Homo sapiens: one gene and its partner. The protein of the gene in region 2 purifies or fractionates together with the protein of the main gene of each other region. This does not show direct contact. Each region holds a gene or a part of one and is shown on either strand. Other genes may lie near its edges.

Region 1 (3,812 bases), on a different chromosome or scaffold from region 2:
CTTCTGTCTAGATATTAATAGCTAAGACTTAATACACAGTGCTATTTGTTGTCTAAACATTGTTTTCAGTGCTTTTACATACATTAACTCATTTAGTTCTTGCAATAGCTCTTTGAACAAACAGTTATTAACATTCCCATTTTACAGATGAGAAAACTAAGGCACTGTGAGAATAATTTGTCTAAGGTCTCACAGCTAGTTATGGGTTAAAGGTAGGATTTGAATCCAGTTAGAAGAACTCCAGATATTCTGCGCTTTACATCATGCCTTTCCATGGGCCTTAATCATCCTCTAGGTCCCAGCCAAAGGTCCTTTAACTATTCTGATCCATACTGACATCCATCTTTTAGCAGGAGGAATACCTATTAATACCTTAGGGCTGTTTGGCCCTACATTATGTATTACTAATTGTAGCACATTTATGTCACTTAGGATGTATATATATTATATATTGATAAAGAGCATACAAAATTTTCATGCATTGTTTAATGTCACTTTGACCTTGAAAGCAAGAGGGGTATTGGTTTTCTAGGAGTATGTTACTGGAGAAATATCAATTTATAACTGAAGAACTAGAACTAAATGTTTTAGATTAGATGGTAATTCAGATTTTAGATGTTTATTCTCTTTGTAGAGGTAAGAAGTATGGAGAGACAGCTAATGAGTGTGGAGAAGCCTTCTTTTTCTATGGGAAATCACTTCTGGAGTTGGCAAGGTATGGATGTTGTATTTAAAAACTGAAGTTTCCTTGTTAAGATTGTTTACTAGCTTTGAGATTTCACAGGAGCTAAGCAAGATTGGTTTTACCTAGAGAGTTTTGAAGGAGCTTGAAGTAGTGATGGAAGTTGTGAATGGCACTTGATACAATTAGTAGTTATATTTAAGTTTTGACTTTTGGAGTCAGTAGAAGCAAAGTTCTTTCCAGTAGTGAATGATCCAAAGTTCAGTGTAGAGAATCTTTAAAAGCACTGTGAGCTAGCTCAAAACAAGGACTGAATAGAGGACAACTGGAAAGAATTAGCAAGTGAGACTGTCCAGTAAAAAAGACTTTTACTATTGAAAAGTTCTTGGCTATGTTCTATCAGAATTTATTAATCAGAATAAGTTCTGTTTAGGGTATACAAACTAGCAAATGATGTCATCTATTTAATCTCAGTTCTGGTAAGGTTTTTTTTTTTTGAGATGGAGTCTCAGTCTGTCACCCAGGCTGGAATGCAGTGGCGCGATCTCGGCTCACTGCATCCTTCATCTTCCGGGTTCAAGTGATTCTTCTGCCCCAGCCTCCTGAGTAGCTGGGACTACAGGCATGTGTCACCACACCCGGCTAATTTTTTATTTTTAGTAGAGACAGGGTTTCACCATGTTGGCCAGGCTGGTCTCGAACTCCTGACCTCAGGTGATCCACCCACCTCGGCCTCCCAAAGTGCTGGGATTACAGGCGTGAGTCACTGCGCCTGGCCCAGTTCTGATAAGTTTTTTTTTTTTTTTTTTTAAGACGGAGTTTCACTCCTGTCACCCAGGCTGGAGTGCAATGGTGCGATCTCTGCTCGCCGCAACCTCTGCCTCCCCGGTTTGAGCGATTCTCCTGCCTTAGCTTCCTGAGTAGCTGGGATTACAAGTATGCGCCACCATGTCCAGCTAATTTTGTATTTTTAGTAGAGATGGGGTTTCTCCATGTTGGTCAGGCTGGTGTTGAACTCCTGACCTCAGGTGATCTGCCTGCCTCCACCTCCCAAAGTGATGGGATTATAGGCGTGAGCCACCGTGCCTGGTCTCTGGTAAGTTTTTAATCTCGTAATCATACAGAACTTTCTCATGATTTGCCGTGAAAATCTTGCTAGAGTATTTTTGGCTATTTAGAGAAATCGGGTGGATACAAAGTTTGGGAAATAGTATGGTCCTATTACAAATGGAATGCATATAGGTCTTGTTCTTTTGACAAGAGACATGCTTTTCAGGCGGCTGGATGGAGGAATATGCTTATTTCCTTCAGTGCTCTTGCAGTCTTAATTTATATTACTAAAGTTTTGATCATTGCTTCCTTGAATATACATAGTTTTGTATTGCCTGCGCTTGGCTTACACTTCTTGCTTTTATAATATAGGACTGTATTTTCTGTCTTAGAAAAAATTGCTAGGTTCTAGCCATCAAACCTTTGGTGCTTTCTTTTGTTCTCCTAGAATGGAGAATGGTGTGTTGGGAAACGCCTTGGAAGGTGTGCATGTGGAAGAGGAAGAAGGAGAAAAAACAGAAGATGAATCTCTGGTAGAAAATAATGATAACATAGATGGTATGTGGAGTTGCATGTGACATTCAAGAGATGCGACGTTGTATATTTCTTGTATACAGTGGTGGAAACGGGGCTCTACCTGTCCTGGATGGTCTCTCCTAAGATGCTTGGGGTGATGATGCCTGCATCTGGTGGAGATTGCAGTGGGGATAGCTGTTTACTGAAGCTGACAGCAGATTTTTGAAAGAGAATAACTTATTTTCTCAAGTAAATCCAGTTATTTCGATTGGGGTTTTTTAAATCAAAAAGATAAAAGCAAGATTAAATTGGTGTTTTAAATACTATTACAACCTTAAGTGTTTTTCTGATGCAAATTTTTTTAAACAGCCTGTGCAGTTCAGTTATTTTAATAGCAGTACTTTTAGAGCCCTTGTACATTTTTTATGTGTGCGAAAATTATATAATTTCTAAGCTGAATTTGGCTGCTATAGTTTTACATATCAGATGGGGGAGAATGAAAAGCTTGGCATCTCTTACCTAACTGGTAATCAGAATGCTCAAGTAAAACAATACCTAGTGTAACAAGCTTGGGTTTCTTTTGCAGTAAGTTGCTCTGCTAGCCGGGATGCTCCCTTTCCTTTTCTCTAGGGGGCAGATAATTTTTAGGCCATCTGCTGAAACTTGGTAGGCTTTTTGAGGGTTTAAAGGGAATGTATTTTTAGTTTCCATTTATGCCTTTATCATTAAACTCGAAGACATGTTTATGCTTCATGTTCTTTAACCATGTAGAGGAAGCAAGGGAAGAGTTGAGAGAACAGGTTTATGACGCCATGGGAGAAAAAGAAGAAGCCAAAAAAACAGAAGACAAGTCTTTGGCAAAGCCTGAAACTGATAAAGAACAGGACAGTGAAATGGAGAAGGGTGGAAGAGAAGATATGGATATAAGTAAATCTGCAGAGGAGCCACAGGAAAAAGTTGACTTGACTCTAGATTGGTTAACTGAAACCTCTGAAGAGGCAAAAGGAGGAGCAGCACCAGAAGGACCGAATGAAGCTGAGGTCACTTCTGGGAAGCCAGAACAGGAAGTACCAGATGCTGAGGAAGAAAAATCAGTTTCTGGAACTGATGTCCAAGAAGAGTGCAGAGAAAAAGGAGGTCAGGAGAAGCAGGGAGAGGTAATTGTGAGCATAGAGGAGAAGCCAAAAGAAGTTTCAGAAGAGCAGCCTGTGGTGACTCTAGAAAAGCAGGGCACTGCAGTGGAGGTAGAAGCAGAGTCTTTAGACCCGACAGTCAAGCCAGTGGATGTGGGTGGGGACGAGCCAGAGGAGAAGGTAGTTACCTCTGAAAACGAGGCAGGAAAGGCGGTTCTTGAACAACTGGTAGGTCAAGAAGTACCACCTGCTGAAGAGTCACCAGAGGTGACAACAGAGGCTGCAGAGGCCTCAGCTGTAGAGGCTGGATCAGAAGTCTCTGAAAAGCCTGGGCAGGAGGCTCCAGTTCTCCCTAAGGATGGTGCAGTCAATGGACCGTCAGTTGTAGGAGATCAGACTCCTATTGAACCACAGACTTCTATAGAAAGACT
Region 2 (3,812 bases):
GAAGGGAAGCTTTCCCAGAACTCTCATAAAACAGGTGAATAATTCCCTCCTAGAAAGCTCTGTATCTGTTTATTCACTTGCTCGGGCTCTCTCAGGAAAACATAAGCAAAGAGTCAAGATGCCAAGGCAATCTTGAGTGGGGGAGGTAGAGGCAGAGCAAATGCCTTCCAGAGCTCTGTGGTTATGCTAAAGAGCTTTACAGATTGGTATCATGCTTGGAAGTCTGAGATGCTGAGAATTCCCCACTGTGTCACACTTTCTCATGCCAAGCCCAGTGCCCGGGCAGGTGCTATGCATGTACACATGCATGCACACACACACACACACACACATACACACACACACCCTCAACATGGTCAATTTTCTGCCCACCCTGCTGGGTGTCAGGGCATGCTCCCCAAGCAGCTGACCATGGAACTAACCTGCAGCGCCAGGAAGCGAGCCTTCAGCCAGTAAACACGGACCACAAACTCCAGCCAACCATCCTCGAACAGGTCGCGCTGGGACGAGGCAAATGACAGCTGTAGGAGGTCACCCAGGCAGTGGGTCCCTGGGAAGTCAGGTCCAAATCTGCCATTCACCATACCAGCAGGGCAGTTCCGAGGAGACACTAAAAACCATCAGGCCAACGAGTCAACTTCATGTGTAGCATTCTAATGCCCTTCTGCTTCTCAGAAGTTGCACTTGGCCCTAACCACACCCACCCTATCTCCAGGGGCACCCTAAGCCCCTCAGAGCCCTACAGCTCCCTGAGTGGCAGGCATCAGAGAGGTTGGACCAGTTAAGACAAAGATATGCAGAGACCCTGCCCCCTGCCGAGAGTCAGGGGCAAGGGCAAGGGGAAGCAATTTTACAGACAGCATTGAGTATATCTACATTCCACCAGGTGGTAGTTTAAAAGTCAGAATGAAGCTGGGCCCAGTGGCTCATGCCTGTAATCCCAGCACTTTGGGAGGCTGAGGTGGGCGGATTACTAGAGGTCAGGAATTCAAGACCAGCCTGGCTAACATGGTGAAACCCCATCTCTGCCAAAAAATACAAAAATTAGCCAGGCATGGTGGCACACGCCTGTAGTCCCAGCTCCTCGGGAGGCTGATATGGGAGAATCACTTGAGCCTGGGAGGCAGAGGTTGCAGTGAGCCAAGATCATGCCACTGCACTCCAGCCTGGGTGACAGAGCAAGACGCTGTCTTACCAAAAAAAAAAAAAAAAAAAAAAAAAATCCGTATCACCAGAAAAATTACTGAAGCTACATAATACATAAAGCACTGCATTGAACAGTCACACCAAAACTGAGATCCCACTTCCTTCAATCTTGTGTAACAGCAAAGCAGGGAGGTGGCTCCCTCTGGGGGCTCAGCTACTGCTAACCACTTCTTGAGTATCCAGGAGATTTCCCTGGGACCCTGACAAGCCAACCCAAAAAATGTGCCTACTGTAGATATAAGGCTAAATTCCATGACTCAGTCTCCCGCCTCAGCTTTCTCCCAGCTGCTGGGGGTTCAGATATTAGCCTGGCCACAGAACACATAATGCCTCCTACCTGCAGAGCTTCTGCCTTTGGTCAGCAGCCACTGGTCCAGCTGGAGTTCCATGCAGGAGAGAGACATCAGCATCATGTCCTGCAGGACAGACACAGGAAGGTCAAGAACAGTATCACAAAGCCTCTTCACAGTGTGGGGGGTAGGGGGCTGTGGAAGGAAACAAAACTATACTTTTTGATAAAAATATAATTCTTTCTATCCACTTGCCATTTCATAAGTGATAATCAGTGGCTACTCGCCAGAACATAAAAAGAGCCACATGGATGTATGTTGGGACAAGACTTGGGAGAGGCCAGGAGACCGGTCTTCAGAGTTCTTGTCCTGTTGAAGAGGCAGCCCTGTCACCTGCCAAGTGCTGGGACGGACACTGCATCCAAATTATAGAACTCAACCCTTAAAAGTTCTGGGCAGCTGGTATACCATTCCCAGGGCACTTGAGGAAGCTGAGGCTCAGTGATGAGAAGGCACTTGCCCATTGGGCACAGCTGGAAGGTGATCATCAGCCTGCTTTGCCTGGGGATCAAAGCCCTGGTTCCTCCTGCTGTTTCACAACTGCCCCAGGGGAGCATGGCCTGGTGGGCAGAAGCTGCCAGGAGGTTGCCCTGAGGTAACTCAGTGGAGGGTGCCCACCAAGGGATGACTGACCTACAAGCTCTTCTACCTCCTGTGCTCTCAAGTCAGAAAGACCACCAGGCATCCCTGAATGTTCCTGGTGCTCCTGCTTCAGCATTCAGTGTCCCACCTCCAACAGGAGTAAGGGGCCAGAGCACCTTGTGTTCCCTTGAGCTCCAGGAGGCACCAAGTGGAGGAGGCTGGGGTGTGGAATGCAGCAGGAAGACAAGGCTCAGTGAGGCTCAGCCCCCTACTGCTGGTGGCCCCCAAAGCTTCTCTAAGCACGCTATTTAGCTTCTGCTGTTTTATCATCTGTTAAAAATAGTCATAGGCCAGGCATGGTGGCTCCCGCCTGTCATCCCAGTGCTTTGGGATGCCAAGGCATCAGGATCACTTGAGCCCAGGAGTTCCAGACCAGTCTGGGCAACATGGCAACATGGCAAGACCACATCCTAACATCGTAACAAAAGGAGACCCCCATCTCTACAAAACAAAACAAATTTTTTTTTTTTGAGACAAGAGTCTCGCCTTGTCGCCTAGGCTGGAGTGCGGTGGCGCCATCTCGGCTCACTGCAAGCTCCGCCTCCCGGGTTCACACCATTCTCCTGCCTCAGCCTCCTGAGTAGCTGGGACTATAACCGGGTGTGGTGGTGTACGGCTGTGGTTCCAGCTACTTTGAAGGCTGAGGTGGGAGGACTACCCGAGCCCAGGAGGTTGAAGCTGCAGTGAGCCGTGACTGCACCACTGCACTCCAGCCTAGGCAACAGAGCAAGACCCTGTCTCAAACAACAACAACAAAAGCCTCAGTCACAGTCCTTGCCAACTCAAACAAACCAAATGTTTCCCTTTCCTCCAGCTTCTCCTGGCAAGGCTTCCTGTGACTCAGTAAACAACCCGAGAAGCCCTCCCCATGACTCTCATTCCCTCACACATCCCATGTCTAGTTCAACCTATCAGCTCTGCAACCACAAACCAGCACCCCACTATTACCACTGGATCTCAGCCACTGCTCCCCTGGCATGGCAGCAGCCTCCTGATAGCCCCGTGAGCCCACTCTCACCCCTAAGTGTATCCTCCACTCAGCCATCAGGGAGCTTTCTAGGCACAAACTAGGTTCAGTGACTTCCTGCTTCGACACCCACAAAAAAACCAGGTTCCAGGCCCACAAGTAGATGCAGCCAAACACAACAGCAGCCCCACACCCATGCAAGATCCCTGTCCCCATGCCCTGGTCCCAGTTCAATACCAGCCCTTGAGAGGCTCCCCCTAACCTTGATGTGCTTGTTGCTGCAGTCCCTCAGCAGCGGGTTGGGCAGGCTGGTGCTGTGCCTCCTCCAGCTGTGGTAGACGCTGAGCACGACCTCCGCCAAGCCTGGAGGCCACCTTACCAAGAACTTGTGGCCCATGGCTTTCAGGTAGCGCATCATCAGCTCCAGGATGCCCCCGTTGGTTAGGTTCTCCAGCAGGAACTCATGCACGTCCTGCTTTTCTGCCCGGGGAGCAAGAACAACCTGACTTGAATAAAGAGTACCTTCCATGCCAGGGTCTCCTATTTACTTTGGGACAGTAAAGACTGTTCCCTCCCTCTACCATCTGATCCAGGTGGACATGATACCACGTTGTGGTGCTGAGATCAGGCTACTGGGTTCAATGCCT

Evidence for each region.
Region 1: the proteins of CABIN1 (region 2) and NASP purify together in Homo sapiens (affinity purification with mass spectrometry, with the first as the bait; one large-scale study listed by BioGRID). This does not show direct contact.

What each region holds. Positions count from the first base shown.
Region 1 is NC_000001.11:45,604,302-45,608,113, forward strand, and holds part of NASP (nuclear autoantigenic sperm protein), read left to right. Parts: intron 1-634; coding exon 635-715; intron 716-2,180; coding exon 2,181-2,290; intron 2,291-3,019; coding exon 3,020-3,812. UniProt on the Homo sapiens protein: Component of the histone chaperone network. Binds and stabilizes histone H3-H4 not bound to chromatin to maintain a soluble reservoir and modulate degradation by chaperone-mediated autophagy.
Region 2 is NC_000022.11:24,059,757-24,063,568, reverse strand, and holds part of CABIN1 (calcineurin-binding protein cabin-1), read right to left. Parts: intron 3,646-3,812; coding exon 3,428-3,645; intron 1,623-3,427; coding exon 1,544-1,622; intron 611-1,543; coding exon 423-610; intron 1-422. UniProt on the Homo sapiens protein: May be required for replication-independent chromatin assembly. May serve as a negative regulator of T-cell receptor (TCR) signaling via inhibition of calcineurin. Inhibition of activated calcineurin is dependent on both PKC and calcium signals.